Linked DNA regions of Homo sapiens: region 1 is linked to region 2. Evidence: fine-mapped expression QTL. A gene starts in region 2. The other region holds a variant in brackets. All regions are shown on one strand. Distances are between the middles of the regions. Region 1 overlaps SUSD2 (sushi domain containing 2). Region 2 holds the start of CABIN1 (calcineurin binding protein 1).

Region 1 (8,327 bases), 180 kb before region 2:
TGAGGAATCGCCACACTGACTTCCACAGTGGTTGAACTAGTTCACAGTCCCACCAACAGTGTAAAAGTGTTCCTATTTCTCCACATCCTCTCCAGCACCTGTTATTTCCTGACTTTTTAATGATCGCCATTCTAACTGGTGTGAGATGGTATCTCATTGTGGTTTTGATTTGCATTTCTCTGATGGCCAGTGATGATGAGCATTTTTTCATGTGTTTTTTGGCTGCATAAATGTCTTCTTTTGAGAAGTGTCTGTTCATGTCCTTCGCCCACTTTTTGATGGGGTTGTTTGTTTTTTTCTTGTAAATTTGTTTGAGTTCATTGTAGATTCTGGATATTAGCCCTTTGTCAGATGAGTAGGTTGTGAAAATTTTCTCCCATTTTGTAGGTTGCCTGTTCACTCTGATGGTAGTTTCTTTTGCTGTGCAGAAGCTCTTTAATTAGATCCCATTTGTCAATTTTGGCTTTTGTTGCCATTGCTTTTGGTGTTTTAGACATGAAGTCCTTGCCCGTGCCTATGTCCTGAATGGTATTGCCTAGGTTTTCTTCTAGGGTTTTTATGGTTTTAGGTCGAACGTTTTAAGTCTTTAATCCATCTTGAATTGATTTTTGTATAAGGTGTAAGGAAGGCATCCAGTTTCAGCTTTCTACATATGGCTAGCCAGTTTTCCCAGCACCATTTATTAAATAGGGAATCCTTTCCCCATTGCTTTTCTCAGGTTTGTCAAAGATCAGATAGTTGTAGACATGTGGCGTTATTCTGAGGGCTCTGTTCGCTATCTATGACAAACCCACAGCCAATATCATACTGAATGGGCAAAAACTGGAAGCATTCCCTTTGAAAACTGGCACAAGACAGGGATGCCCTCTCTCACCACTCCTATTCAACATAAAGTTGGAAGTTCTGGCCAGGGCAATTAGGCAGGAGAAGGAAATAAAGGGTATTCAATTAGGAAAAGAGGAAGTCAAATTGTCCCTATTTGCAGATGACATGATTGTATATCTAGAAAACCCCATTGTCTCAGCCCAAAATCTCCTTAAGCTGATAAGCAACTTCAGCAAAGTCTCAGGATACAAAATCAATGTACAAAAATCACAAGCATTCTTATACACCAACAACAGACAAACAGAGAGCCAAATCATGAGTGAACTCCCATTCATAATTGCTTCAAAGAGAATAAAATACCTAGGAATCCAACTTACAAGGGATGTGAAGGACCTCTTCAAGGAGAACTACAAACCACTGCTCAAGGAAATAAAAGAGGATACAAACAAATGGAAGAACATTCCATGCTCATGGGTAGGAAGAATCAATATCATGAAAATGGCCATACTGCCCAAGGTAATTTACAGATTCAATGCCATCCCCATCAAGCTACCAATGACTTTCTTCACAGAATTGGAAAAAACTACTTTAAAGTTCATATGGAACCAAAAAAGAGCCCGCATCGCCAAGTCAATCCTAAGCCAAAAGAACAAAGCTGGAGGCGTCACACTACCTGACTTCAAACTATACTACAAGGCTACAGTAACCAAAACAGCATGGTACTGGTACCAAAACAGAGATATAGATCAATGGAACAGAACAGAGCCATTGTATGTTCTTTAAGCCCATTAAATCTTCCCCACCCAGGCCAGGGGCAGTGGCTCATGTCTGTAATCCCAGCACTTTGGGAGGCCAAGGCACAAGGATCATCTGAGGTCAAGAGTTCAAGACCAGCCTGGCCAACATGGTGAAACCCCATCTCTACTAAAAATACAAAAATTAGCTGGGTGTGGTGGTGGGCGCCTGTGGTCCCAGCTACTAGGGAGGCTGAGGCAGGAAAATAGCTTGAACCTGGGAGGCGGAGGTTGCAGTGACCTGAGATTGCACCACTGCACTTCAGCCTAGGGACAGACGGAGACTCTGTCTCAAAAAAAGAAAAAAAAAAAAAATCCTCCCCACCCCAAATCATGCACTGTCCTCTTGAAATCATCCACACTCCCTATCTCCTGCTAGCCCTGGGGTGATCAAGTGCCTGCTGTGGCCCATCGGGAGACGCCTCTCCTCAGGGTCCAGTGCTGCCGAGGAGGAGGGAGTGGCCAGTGTAGTGCGTTGTAGGAGTGGGAAGTCAGGGGGGGCTTCCTGGAGGAGTCTGGCTCCAGCTGAGTATCAAAGGAGAGATTCCCATCGCCCTTTCCCCTAAGAAGCAGGGTATATCAGCATCTTTATCCCACTGGGATATTCGGCAATGACTCTGTGATTCTCCCCCAACGCATGCTAATAACTTGGTACACCTTGTTTTCCAATTAATCTGCCTTTTGTGAGTTGATTTTTCCTTGAACTTTCAGAGGGTAAAGGGGAAGTTTTCCCTTGGCCCCTACATTATGGTGTCCAGCATATGACATTTTATGGCTACTTGACATCGGTTAGTCTAGAACCCACCTAGCAAGTGGCGTCAAGGTGGGAGTGAGGCGTGACTGCTGTGACACCCCATCACATTTCAGTGCCTCTCTGGGCCTGATAATTAAAGGGGGCTCTCGTTCCTCAGATAAAAATTTCTTTTTGGCCGGGCACAGTGGATCATGCCTGTAATCCCAGCACTTAGGGAGGCCGAGGCAGGAGGATTGCTTGACCCCAGGAGTTCAAGACCAGCCTGAGCGTGCCTGTGGCCCCAGCTACTTGTGAGGCTGAGGCAGGAGGATCACCTCAGCCTGGGAGGTTGAGGCGGCAATGAGCTATGATCGCACCACTGCACTCCAGCCTGGGTGACAGAGTGAGACCCTGTCTCACAGAAGAAAAGTTTCTTTCCCATCTCAGCACCAACTAACTGCTTCAACAAATGGTCCCTGAAACATATTAAGGCTTAATCACAAAAGAAGTTTATTTCCTGGTCCTGGAAGAGTAGTGGGTGGGTGATCAGGTCAGCAGGGACTTGGTTGGCATGACTTCCAAAGTCAGTCATCCTCACATCCTTGCAACAAAGGGAGCTGGTGAAAGCCTGAAGGGGTGCCTGTGGGAAGCCGCACTCCTCCACGATGCCTCCTTGACTTCCCACTCCTACAGTGCGCTGCACCGACCCCCCCGCCTCCTCCTTGGCAGCATTGGACCCTGAGGACAGGGGTGTCCTGATGGGCCTAGCAGAGGTCTGGCCCACAGCAGGCACTCGGCCACCCTGGGGCTTGCAGAAGGAAGCAGCTTGGCAGAAGAAGGGGTCCCTTGCTCCCCAGCTGTGCCTGTACTGTACTGTACCGAGTCAGAGCCCTCCCTGGCCCCCAGATCAGCCGCACCCACTGTGCTCAGCCAACAGGAGACCTAGTGGGAGGCTGGAGGGCAGGGGGCACAGAGAAGCCGGGCTTCCCTACTCTAGCCAGCAGGGGACCTGCAGCTGGGCTGTCACCTCTGTGACTCCCCTTGGCCCACAGGCCTGCGTGACGCCCGCTTCCATGGGATCTGGGCCTGGCTCCCATAGCACATTCCTTCCTCCCTTTGCCCTTCTGCCCAAGGTGGGT[C/T]TTAGGATCCTGCTGGTACCTCATCGGCTCCTGTTTGACCCCCCCAGCTCTCTCATCACCTGTGTCTCCAAAGCCCTGGATTACCATCTGCCCCACTCTGACTGGTACCACCACGATGGTACCGGCCATTGGGTGACTCTGATACTCCATCATTTCAACCCTACTGTAAGCCACCCGCAAGCTCCCATGGCTGCCCGTCCTGCAAGCCCTGGGCTGCTATTTGGGAGACCATCTCCCTGAGGCAGCGGTCCCTGCCTTTGATGTCTCTAGAGAGTCTGCACCGGCTCCAGGCCTTCTGCCTTTGCACAGGCCCTGTCTCTATCTCTTTCGGGCCCCAGGAAAAGCCCCTGGCAGGTGGTGGGGCTTCCCAGCCTGGCCTGCCCCTGGCACTGGGAACATCTGATGTCTGGGACTGGGGCCACAGACAGGGCACCCTTTCTCCTGCTGGAAAGGGGAGGTGGGGGGGCAGACCAAGGGCCCATCCTGGAGGGAGACTGGTGGGGGTGGGGGAGCCCGAGGCAGGCCACACTTTGCTCTTAGGATGAAATCTAAATGCCTTGGCCTGGCAGGGGAGGCCTTGGCTGGCCCCCACCCCTGTCATTCCGCAGACATGACTGCACTTCTCTTTCTCTGAGCCTTTGCATAGACTGCTCCTCTACCCAGAACCCCTGTCCATCTGGAACCCCTGTCCAACCAATCAGAGCTCTGAGAATCCAACCTGTTTCTTGACCTCAGTTCGGGGGCTGCTCTTGTCTGGGACACCCTCTAGTGGACCTGATGAGCTGCCAAGCTGCCCCTGCCGCTCTTGGGCCCCCTGAAAACCTGTGCCCGCTCCCTCATGTCCAGGCCTTGACCCGGAAACTGACCTCTCACCCACTGACACGTGGCCGGCCCAGGCCTGGCGTGGCACAGGGGTGCGCTGGGGATTCAGACAGTGGGAGGGGAGCCCTGCCTTACCTCATCTGTAGGGAGGAAAGTACCTGCCCAGCCCGCCAAGGGGCTGACCCTCAGCCCCACCATGCCTGGAGGTGCAAACCCAGGGGAATGGGGAAGCAACGGAGTGAGCTCTAGAAAGAGAGAAGGCCAGACCCCATTCCCCTCCGCTAGCCTCCCGCCACCCCTGCCCTGCAACCCTCAGCTCGGTTCCCGCACACGTGCCCCATCATGCACATTCACCTCCTCCAGGAAGGCCTCAGATGAGACATGTCTCTGCCTCCCCAGCTCTCCCATTCACCAAGGGCAAGGCTGAGCAGGTGAGAGGCCTGGACTCCCACCCCATGGTCAGTGCCCGCTGAATGACCTGGGGAGACCTGTGCAACCTCTTCAACACTCCTGAGATGCGGGGATGACCCAGGTGCGGGGAGGCGGAGGGGTGGGCTGTGCGCAGACCTTGGCTGCGGTTGTGACCAAGTCGGCTGACCCAGCTGCAGGGCAGGGCTGACTGCCCTCCCAACCTCCTGCCACCCAGACTCGCTGTTCCTATCCTCTGCTGCCCCTATATGGCCACTCCCAGCGCTGCAGGTCACACTGAGGCGGCTCAACTCCCCACCCAGTGTTCTCTACCTGGCCCCCAACTTCCAGCCTCACCCTCTCCAGCACTTTCTCTGAGACCTAAGGGGCAAACCCGACCAATGCTACCCTGCCTGAGTCCCCATTCGGGACCCTCTCCACAAAGGTTGATGGACCCTGGTCATCCTCCAGCTGCTTCCAGGTCTGTGCCTCCATGCCAGGCCCCACAGGAAGCGCCGACAAAGAGCTGCTCAGGTGGGCCACCGTGGCCTGAGGCCTGGGCTCTGTGCCCAGATTCTGGACATTCCTGGGCTAAGGAGCCTGGGCGCTGGTCTCCTGAGGACTTGGAACTGATCCTGCCAGCGACTGCACCCAGCCAAGGAGCCGAGGCTGCAGGGCAGTGCTTGCCAGAGCACGCCAGGGCGTGGTGAGGGGGTGGCACCTCTGTTGAGGGAGGGGTTGTCCTTCTCCATCTCCTGAGTGACCCAAGTGAGCCCTGTGCTGTGTTGGCGGCCTCCCCACCCCACGAGGCGGCCACAGTTCTCCATCCCACTGCATACATGGAGAGAGAGCCTGGGGAGGGAGCATCCCCGGCAACCTCGTGGAGGAAGCAGGCAGGGCTCAGACCTGCCTCACTCTGGATACTGTTGGTGGTGACCCCGGGAGGCGGTCATGGAACTCTCCAGAACCAGGGCGCAGCATGAACACCAGGAGACCAGGGAAGGAAACAAGGCGCTTGTTTTCTCTTTGCACAGGCAGGGAGGGTGTTCCTGAGTGACCTTCCAGAAGAGTTCGAAATTATAAGCCTGGAGTGCCGAGGGAGGCCTCTGCCGCTGGGGGTCTCGCTGTCTGCTTTGGGGTTCTGGGGCCTCTCCTTACCCCATCTGGGGTCCCAGGATGGGCCCAGGGGTCCAGGAACCAAGGCAGCACTGCACTGGTGCCCGCACGGTCCGGGAGCAGGCCTCCGTAGATCAGGGGTCAGGGGCCCCGGCATCAGGCTCTGGGGAGTGAGGTATTGGAATCTGAGGCTCAGGGGTCAGGGGCCCCGGCGTCAGGCTCTAGGGAGTGAGCTATTGGAATCTGAGGCTCAGGTGTGGGAGTGTCAGGGCTCAGGACATAGGTATTAGAATCCCAGGGTATGAAGTTTCAGGTTTGGGGAATTAGAGCCGTGAGTATTTGGGGAAGAGCACGGAGCGCTGCTAGCACGGGGCTTGGGTGTTGGAACACTGGGCCTCCTGCCTGGGGTCTGAGATGACAGAGTAGGGGGTTAAATGCCCAGGTATCAAGTATCCAGGTCCCAGGTGTCTGGTCCTGGGGATGCGGGAGTCGCAGGACTGGGCTGCCTGTTCTCAGGAGTCTTGGCCTGGTGCTCACAGCCAAGCTGCTCCCATCAGGGCTGTGCACCCCAGACGTGCCTGCAACAGAAACGCAGTTAGAAGTAGCCTCGGTGGTCCCACCGGCTGTCTCGGGGTCTTGGGAGAGGGGCTGGGGGGTCTCACGTGTTGCCCTTCCTGCGGCGCAGCAGCACATAGACGAGCGCAACCGCCGCCACCACCGCGAGGCCCCCAAAGATGATGCCCAACAGCACCGCGTAGCTGCGTCCTGGTGAGGGAGCGAGTGTCAGTGAGGGGGCTCTCTGGGGTGGTGAGTGGGGACAGGTGCAGGCAGGTGTATGAGCAGAGTGTCCTCACCTGGCTGGCACTTCGGGGTGGGTGAGGACCAGGTGCCGTCAGCCTGGCAGGTGCTGGTCTCTGCCCCGGCCAGGCTGTAGCCGTTGTCACAGTGGAAGTAGATGGTGGAACCCGCCAGGTACCTGTTGCCCTCCTTTTGTCCGTTGGGAGGTGGGGCCAGCCAGCCACAGGACACCACTGGGATGGGGACAGAGTGCAGACAACAGGCCTGAGCTGCCATGCATACACACATCTGGCCACCCCGGGGGGTCCTGTCCCAGCTCCCCGCCCACCCCCACCTGCCCGCCCTCACCTGGCTGCAGGCTCTGCATGCGACGCTGGTGCAGCTGGTGGGCCACCCGAGTGGCAGTGCCCGTGCTCAGGCTCCCAGTGGCTGCCACATCAAAGTTGCAGAAATGATCGTCCCCACATAGTTTGGCTGCCTCTTGTGCCAGGCTGGGGTTGAGGGTGGTCTCACTGGGGAAGAGGGGCTCGAAGGTGGGGTCGTGCTTGGGTTGGTACAGGAAGTTGTGGACCAGGAACCAGGAATCGTAGGTGAGCAGGGAGGACGCATTGTGCACGGTCCCTGGAAGATACATGACCGGGGCCTGGCTGGGCATGGCTCCCTTTGGTCCCCAAGCCCTGCCCGTGCCATGTTTCCAGTAACCCCCACCCCGTCTGCCCCATATACTCCACGGTCACTCACAGTTGGCCCCAAACAGGAACAGCTCCTGGGGACTGGTGCCTGGGGGCAGGACGCGCCCGCTGTGCAGGGTGAAGTCGTCGGTGGGGTCGTTGTTGAGTGTCCCGAGGAGGCCGTGGGTGTGGGTGAGGAACTTCTCAGGCAGCAGGACGGACACACTCAGGAACGGGCCCTGCACGCTGACCTCCAGGCCGGCCCCTGATGCCAGCATGATGGAGACCCTGTCCCCGGCAGCCACCGACAGGAACATTCCTGGGCTCAAGGGGGATGCATTAGGGTCACCCGCTGTGAGCATCTTGTCCCCTCCCGCAGCCCCAGGACAGGGTGGTCGGCACCCAGGGGCTGTGGGTGAGGGCACCTGCAGGGGAAGGGAGGGCGTTCCCGGGGCCAATTCTGCTGACCATGACCCTCCGCCACCCCTGCCATGCTTGCGGTGGAACTCCCAGCGGCACCTGAGGTGCAGCCCCTGCAGTGAATCCCCCATGTTGAGATGCACGTGTGGGTCCCTCTGGCCTTGGCTGCAGCAGCCACACCTGCCTGGGCACGTCCCGAGGGTCCCTGAACCCTCAGTGCTGACAGGCCCCTCCCAGGTCCTCACCCATCCCAACCAGGAATCCTTTCATTGACTCAGTTCCCTGAGGCAAGGGGTTCAGATGTGGAGCTACCACTTGCCAGGGGCATCCTTAACCGTGCAGGGCTGGAGACCTTGCAGTGGCTTTTGAGGACTGAGGGAGTGACAGGAGCACAGGAGTGGCTCTGTGCAGGCCAGCGGTGAACGTTACCAGGGTGAGTTCCCCTCCAGAAGGCTCCCGGGATCCTCCGTAGGGAGGACATGTCCCACCGTCACGGCCTCTCGGCTTTTGACCAGGTGGGTACGACGGGGGCACCTCGGTGGGTGTGAAGGCCTGAGGTCGGACCACCCAGGCCTCTAGCCAGGACTGGGAGAGGCATGAA
Region 2 (8,327 bases):
CGCCTGGCCTAAAACATACTATTAAGTGAAAAAAGCAAACACAATTATCTATATAGCATGTCACCTTCGTATAAGAAAGAAGAGGATGTGAAAAAATACACAACTAACTGTTCACTTGTGCGAAAGAAACACGAGATAATCCAGATACCAAAGTTAGCTATACAGGGTAGGTGGGAAAGCGGTGAAAAGAAGGGGTGAATGGGAACAGGGCAGTAGGCATAAGAAGGGAAAGACACTTCTCTGAGTATACCTTTGTGTGTAGCTCTGACTCTCAGAAATCAGTCATAATTCATACCGCAAAAACAACTAAAATCAGCTAGGATGCAGGGGGAACTCAAAATGAAATATAAACACTAACAATGAACCTAACTATTACAACTAACATAACCACTCTGAAAGGCATGAGGAAGAAAGGAACTAACCTAAGTAACTGTAGAAAATGGTATCTTGACTGGATAGGCTAAAGACAAAAAGAACTGATTCCAGAGTTGGGTCAGAGAAAACACAAGATGAGCCTGGAACACCTTGTGGTGTGCCATAAAGTAAGTGCTTGAAGGAAAAAAAAAAAAATGAGGGCCAGTTGATAGGCCACAGAAGCTAACCTGAAGGAGATCCTAACTAAATAGCCAATGCTGGAACAGTAAGCAACAAAATAATGATGATAATGAATTTTAACTCATAGAATATAATACATATCCATGGCCTACACTGACACATAAATAATCAAATAAATAAATAAAAGAGAGAGAGGGTAGTTCTCCTTTCAGTAGAACTTGACTTAATAATGTAGAAGGAAAGAGAGAAATAATTACCTTTAGGCAAACACCACAAAGATCTGCAGATGGATGCTAAAGTCAGGGAGCAAATTTGTGGAGAACGAGAATTTGTGTCCTCTCAATGTATCTCTCCCAAGAGACTTATTAATTAGAAAGGGATAGTAATTTTATGGTGTAGAAACCTGGTAGACACCAAGTAAACCAATAGATCAAGGTAAATATCACCAGTAATAAGACATTCCAATATCTTGGACTCCATGTGATGCACTGAGAAAGACACAAAGATAATGTGTCTTTGTGTTCTGGCCAACAATGCATAATCTCACCCCAATCATTAGAAAACACTGGACAAACCTTTAAATTGAGAGACGTTAGACAAAATAACTGATCACTACTCTTTAAAAGCATCAAAGCCAAGGAAAACAAGAAAAGACTAAGGAAGTGTTATGGACCAAGGAGAAATAACTAAATGCAACATGGGATCTTGGATAGGGTCCTGGAATGAAAACACAACCTTAATTTAAAAAATGGTAACATTCATATCACATCTGTAATGTAGTTAATAATACTGTACCAACACTAGATTTCTGTTCTTGATAATTGTATGATTATGTAAGATGTTAACATTAGGGAAAGCAGGGTGAAGGACATAACAGAGCGTTTTGTATTGTTGCAATTTTTCTCTAAATCTAAAATTAGTTTAAAAAGCTTAAAAAGAGGCCGGGCATGGTGGCTCACGCCTATAATCCCAGCACTTTTGGAGGCCGAGGCGGGCGGATCATGAGGTCAGGAGATCAAGACCATCCTGGCTAACACGGTGAAACTCCGTCTCTACTAAAAAATACAAAAAACTAGCAGGGTATGGTGAGAGGCGCCTGTAGTCCCAGCTACTAGGGAGGCTGAGGCAGGAGAATGGCGTGAACCCAGGCGGCGGAGCTTGCAGTGAGGCGAGATCGCACCACTGCACTCCAGCCTGGGCCACAGGCGAGACTCCATCTCAAAAAAAAAAAAAAAAAAGCTTAAAAAGAAATAACCATTTTGATTATATATTTATCATCTGTAAGCAATGTGAGGATGGTAACCATTTATGTATTGTTCACCATAAATCCAAGAAACTCACTAAAAGGAGCTTTTAAAAAAAAAAAAGCTATTGAGGCCGGGCGCGGTGTCTGACGCCTGTAATCCCAACACTTTCAGAGGCCGAGGCGGGTGGATCACCTGAGGTCAGGAGTTTGAGAGCAGCCTGACCAATACGGTGAAACCCCGTCTCTACTAAAAATACAAAAATTAGCCAAGCATGGTGGCGGGTGTCTGTAGTCCCAGCTACTCGGGAGGCCGAGACAGGAGAACTGCTTGAACCCGGGAGGCGGAGATTGCAGTGAGCCGAGATCATGCCACTGCACTCCAGCCTGGGCGACAGACCAAGGCTCCGTCACACACACACACACAAAAGCTATTGAATAATCATGAAAAAGAAAAATATCTATTCATTTCTGACTCCCAGCCCAGCAGCTGCATTTCCTCAGATAGCAGCACATTCACCAGGCTTATTAGTCTAAGCTAATAAGTTTCCAAACCCCTTAGAATATAGTTTCCATGGCCTCAGAACACGATAAAGAGTAGCACACCTTCAGACCTCAGCACCCTGATCCAGAGTGATAACTGGGGATGTTTCCTGGCCTGGAAGGTGGGAAGCCTATGTCTTAAGCTCAGTGGTGGCAGTGCCCTGGCTGTGTGACTGACTTGACATAGATGTCAGTCTCTCAGTCTGTTTCCCCTCATGTATGAGGCTTTGTACTAGATGAGGGTTCTGCAAGCTAACCAGCCCACCCTTTTTGTACAGCCCACGAGCAAAGAATGGTTTTTACATTTTTTCATATTTGGGAAAAAAAATCATGACACGTGAAAATTATATTAACAATATATAAAATTAAAACTTCGGTCCCTATAATTAAAATTTTATTGCGACGCAGCTAGTCTGTTATGTATTGTCTTTGGCTGTATCCACACTACATCGCTACAGTTAAGTAGACAGAGTATGGACCCCCCAAGCCTAAACTACTATTATGAATACTATTATACTCATTATACTTACAATATAACAATGTAAACACTGATATATTTACAACAAAAGTTTGCCGACCGCTGAACGAGACTGTTCTAAGCATATTCTATTTCTAACCACAATAATCACATAGAAAGAATCTTAGCCACATGGAATCCGACGGTCCCACACTTATAACCTGTAATAACCCAGGTCCTGAAGAGTTAAGTGACTCCCAAAGCCACTTGTGCAGATACCTTGGGAATGCCAGGTGAGTTCCATCTGGCCAGGGCCCGCCTCTTGCGGGGAGGCAGTGAAGCAGAACGGTCAAAATTTTCAGTCTGGAGTCGCGCTCACCCACTGGGTGACTTGGAGCAAATCATTTCACCTACCCGCGGCCTCAGTTTCCACCCCTGTAAATGGCACCAATAACAACACTCACCTCGCAGGGCTGCTGTGAAGGTGAAGCGAAAGGTCGCGAGTAAAGGGTTAGCGCGCTGGGCTTTGCACCCAGCAGACGCCAAATCAATGGTGGCTCCTGCGGTTACTGGGAACCTCCCCGGAGGCCGGAACCCATTCTAGGCACCTCAGGGCGGCGGCGAGAGCCATGAAGAGGCTCGCGAGGCAGCCAGGAAGCCCGGCCTCGGTTTCCCTGACTGGGGCTCTAAAGCTGCCCGCGAAACCCCCAGCTTCCTCACGTAACCCAGCCTCGCGCCTGCAGCCCCTCCGGCCTGTGCCCCGGGCTCTGCTGAGCCTCACCCCCACCCCGGCACCGCCTTCAAACCAGCCTTCCAGGAACTCACCAGGCGTCTCCACAGCAACGGCCAGTCTGTCCCGACCACCGCGCCGTCCGGCTGCGCGCCTGACAACAAGGCGTGCTCCCATTGGCTCCGGTGCCGGTTGTGCCAGCCAATCAGCGGGGGCGCACGCGCCGCTCGCTCTCCGCGGGCTGCTTAGCTGGGGCCCTGCAGACGGCTACCCTTGGGCGGCGCGCGCGCGCGTGCGCGCGTGTGTGCGCGTGTGTGCGCGCGTGCGCGTGTGCGTGTGCGTGTGTGTGTGTGTGTGTGTGTGTGTGTGTGTGTGTGTGTGTGTGTTGCGGGAGTGGAGCTTGTTGTTTCCGGATCCCCGTCGTCAGTCCTAGCGTGCTGGAGGCTTAGAGCACCAGCTCGTAGTCGGACTCTCTTCTCCACAGCTTGCACCCTGAGCAGTCACTAAATGATGGGCTGTGTGTTATTACCTGGGACATGTGCTCTGAAAACAGTGGAAACTTGGGGAACACTTAGAGCGGGGTGTCCAATCTTTTGGTTTCCCTGGGCCACGTTGGAAGAATTGTTTTGGGCCACACATAAAATACACTAACACTAAGGATAGCTGATAAGTTAATAAATAAATAAATAATAAAAATAAAAATCACCAAAAAATCTCAAAATGTTGTAAGAAAGTTTATGAATTTGTGTTGAGCCGCATTCAAAGCCAAGCAGACCAGCGCGTTGGAGAAACTTGACTTAGAGGGAACCAGGGAGGAGGAGCATCCTCATTCATTATATTACCTGTGCCTCTCTTTCCAAAAAGGATGTGAAGCCCAAAAGGAACAGATACAATAGGATATTGAAACAAAAGGAAAAAAAGGAACAAAACCTAGTAAATGAACAAGAAGAGGGGTCATGGGTGGTGTCAGAATTCCAGAGATGAAAAAAGGCGACAGAGTTGAAGGGGTTCTGTCAAGGGTCTTGGGCTGAAAGATGGTACTCTCTTGGGAGCTAGAATAACAATAAAGCATTGTAGGGAAGAACTTTACACTGTGGTTGAATTCATAGCTGCTTGAGTCTTGCACAGATGATTCAAATAGGAGTGAATGTTGGGGGCTTTTTAACCTCAAAGACAGTAACAGCATGGTGAAAAACTCAGTTCAGTACAATAAAGCTATACTGATAAGCTAGAAGTTCTGAAAATTGTTGAGTCACCAACCTTGACTTTGAGTATTGGGGTAAACAGTATTTGGGGGGTAAACAGAAGCATAAACAGATGGTTTCAAAGCTGCATGGATAACCTTCAGCCTCGGATACAGCTTCCACTCAAGCCTTATCATGAAAGATGCGCTGGAGAGAAACAGTTGAAAATAGGTGGGAAGGGTGGTCCAAGCAGCAAGAAAGTTGTGTGGGGAAGGTCCGGAGGTGAGAAACATGCAGATCATGCTGGAGTGTCATGCAGCACAGTGTTACCGTGAGGCAAAGCTCAGGGCCACAGTGGGGAGAGAGCACTCTGGAGAGTTAGGAAGAGGCCAGTCCAAACAAGCAAGCAGAAAACATATTGTTGCAGTCTTGCCCGTGCACCACAATGTACCAGTCTCTCATTGTGGGGTATCACCCAGAATTCTTTGTCTCACGACCAAGAAAATTAGGGAGTGTGGACACAAAGGGTAAGGTTGAAGCAAAAGTTTAATAAGCAAATGAAGAAAGCTCATTGCAGCTGGCGGGGGGCCCAAGCAGGTTGCCCATTATGAGGCTGGGTCAGGGGGTTTTATGGACTGGGAAAGGAAGGAATGTACTGACTGGTCTTGGAGAAAGCACTACTCAGCTTGGCCCCTGGACCTTGAGGGACCAATCAGGAGCTGAAGTGATAGCCTGGCCCAGGACCAATCAGAGGCTCACATTCTAAAGCACGTCCAAGAAAGGAAAGTGCCCACTGGAACCCACTGTAGCCCACCGTGTACATGTCCACAAAAGGAGAAGAGACTATTTCCTGGAAGCCCACTGGTTATACAAAGGACAAAGGCATTTCTATGCTGGGTCTTGTTCCCTTATCAAAGTAGCTGTGGGCATGCCTTAGGCACAAAGATCAAAGGTGTTTCTGTGTTGGGCATTGTTCCTTTATCTGAGTGAGCCAGAGGTTTGTGCAAGTTTCCTTATCTGTGCCTGAAGCCTGATTTTTCAGGCTGTTCCTCTGTTTAAAGGAGTTTTACCAAGGACCCACCTTAATTACCTAACTTTTCTCTCTCAATATCACTCTCACTACACTGAGGATGGCAGATTTAACATGGGGAATCTATATCAAAGACTGTGGCCTTATGGTCTTGGTGAGAGTTAGGCCTGAATCCCATCCATGGTGACCGCAACGATTCATTCATATCCAATGCAAGCATTCCCTGAGGCACTCTGGGAAGCAGGACACCATGAAACACACTGGCAGAGGAATGAGTGCAAAATACTTGGGTCAGGGGTCCAGGGGAAGGAACTCCAAGGTCTAGCTATCAATGAAAGTCCTTAGCAGTGGTTAGGTACAAACACACCAGGCACAGGCATATTCCATTAGAAATTGATTTTATTAACTACATAGACTGCACAGACTGAAAATCTGAATTTGGTGTTTCACTGGTACGCTAAAGATAAGGATCATCAAAGGTTTATGCAGGGAAACAGTGACCACCACGGTGTCCAAGGGTCATTAGAGGAAAATTCTGCATGGAACATGTGGAAAGCTACAGAAATGGAGACTCCCTATAGGCTCCCCCACACCACCCCTACATACTTTGACATTCAACAGACTGATAGGATATTTAGATAAGAGGGTGGGGACCTCATTCATTCAGTTTCAATGCAGTTTCGGCGCTGACATTGCATTTCCAGGTTTGGCATTCTGGGACATGGGTTTTACAAGGTGCCTAGCTACAGAGAATTATCAGCAAGAGTTAACAGAGAAGATGAAGTTCTCTGCCCAGGAATGCCCAGAGAAAGTCCCTGAAGACAAATCTGCCCTGTGCTCTGGCCCACTACAGCAGACTATGGAGAGGAAACAGCTCAGAACTAGTGGAGAAGGGCTGAGCAACTCCTGGAGGTCCAGAATTCTGGGGAGGGCAGGTGAGAGGAGCAGCAATGGGGCTTGAGCTCTTCCTGGACCTGACACACTATCCACTTTTGCAAGACAGAATGACATCCCTTTTGAGCTGTGGATGGTGGAGTTGGCTTGGGGTGAGCCAGGTGGCTGGGCTGGGCCCCATGGAGTGGGTGCCAAGGACCAGGCCCTACACTGAGCCTTCTCTCCTTTCTGCCCACCAAGGGAGCACCTGAAGCCTGAGTTCCTGAAGGTGAACCCCCTGGGGAAGGTGCCTGCCCTCAGAGATGGCGACTTCCTACTAGCAAAGAGGTAATGGTGACCTGGTGCCCACCCAGGGTCAGAGCCAGGATCTGCCTGGGTTCTGGGGCTCAGAGTTGTAGGGGGAGGCAGAGGCGAGAGGGGAGATCTTTCCTTGGCTTGGAGATCTTTCCAAATCACTGAGGCCCCTTCCTCATTTCAGCCTGTGTAGCTCCGATGCAGAGGCTGGACCCAGGGGCACCTTTGGGCTAAAGCTGGAGGCTGGAACCTGGCTAGAGTCTGAGCCAGCTGGAGCTGCCCAGGTGGGGAAAGGACGTAGGTCACCCGGATAAACCTGGACAACCTGAAGCCAGCGGGCAAGGCCCAGGCTTGAGGCTGGCTCCTCCCCAAATGTCCCCAGCTCATCCTTTCAGAGTCCTAGGAGCTGGGCAGACCCAGGGGAGACTCCACATTCAATCCCAGCTCACCACTTCCTCAATCCATGCCCTTGGGGAAATCACAGAACTTTGTGTGCCAGGTTTCTCCTCTGTAAAACGGAGTGGGAGGAATAATGTATCCACCTCCCAGGGCTTACCTGAGGATAGAAAATGGGCACCTAGTGTTCTGGGGCACTAGGAAGGGAACTTGGAGACCTTTTGGGCAGGGCCCACACGGCAGGCACTCTGAGTGGGGACCCTGATGCCAGGGAGTGGGGCCTGGGCACAGAGGGCAGGATGGTATGGTAACTGGGAGGGGAGGTGGAAACATGGGCCCAGGGAGGATCAGAGTTGGAAATGGAGAAACAGAGTGGTTTGGTCGTGGGGAGATACTGCCTGGAGGGAGTTGCAGTATAGGGGAGGTCCTCCCCTGAAGGTGAAGGTGGGGAGAAAACCTGGTCAAATCACCCTGAGTATGAGCAATGAAGCCACCTGGCCCTGACAGGCTGGAGAAAAGATCTCTGACACCCCCTGCCCACAGCATGGTCATCGTTTTATACCTGAGTCGAAAGTACCAGATACGGGGACACTGGTACCCACCTGAGCTGCAAGCCCGCACCTGCGTGGATGAGTACTTGGCGTGGAAGCATGTCACCATCCAGCTGCCTGCCACCAATGTCTACCTGTGCAAGGTGAGCTTCCTAGGCCCTGTCATGCAGGCTGGGGCAGGGGCCTGGACCCCCAGAGATGGAAGGCACCAGTTGGTACATATTACATATTAGCTTCACTTCCACTGTCCTCAGCAGACATAACTAATCTATCACAGTACTCCTTCCCCTAAGCCTGAATGAATCCTTAGAAACCTTCTGAACACAGAGCCCCAGAGGACATCACTAATGAGTGGCAGCCGGGAAGGGATGGAGAGGAGGCCCAAGAGGCTTCCAAGAGTCTGGGTTAAGTTGCTCCTCTCCTCCCAGCCCAGTCTCTCCTGCCCCACTT

The links. PIP is the estimated chance that this variant, and not a neighbour inherited with it, causes the effect. A credible set is the group of variants that fine-mapping cannot tell apart.
Region 1: its variant is the best candidate, but not a certain one, in a credible set for the expression of CABIN1 in tibial nerve (GTEx, PIP 0.72).

The regions. Positions count from the first base shown.
Region 1 is chr22:24,186,500-24,194,826 of GRCh38, reverse strand. SUSD2 (sushi domain containing 2) reads right to left here. Exons shown (of 15, transcript NM_019601.4): 11 at 7,377-7,625; 12 at 6,984-7,256; 13 at 6,692-6,868; 14 at 6,500-6,602; 15 at 5,721-6,415. The coding sequence ends at 6,391. Among named protein-coding and RNA genes, the nearest start is that of SUSD2, 9.2 kb to the right of the region's middle. RefSeq lists an enhancer at 4,613-5,254. The variant C/T (reference allele first, on the strand shown) is at 3,492.
Region 2 is chr22:24,006,664-24,014,990 of GRCh38, reverse strand. It overlaps CABIN1 (calcineurin binding protein 1), which reads right to left and starts at 3,687. Exons shown (of 37, transcript NM_012295.4): 1 at 3,624-3,687. LOC105372959 (a long non-coding RNA gene) reads right to left here. Exons shown (of 2, transcript XR_001755457.1): 2 at 6,124-8,327.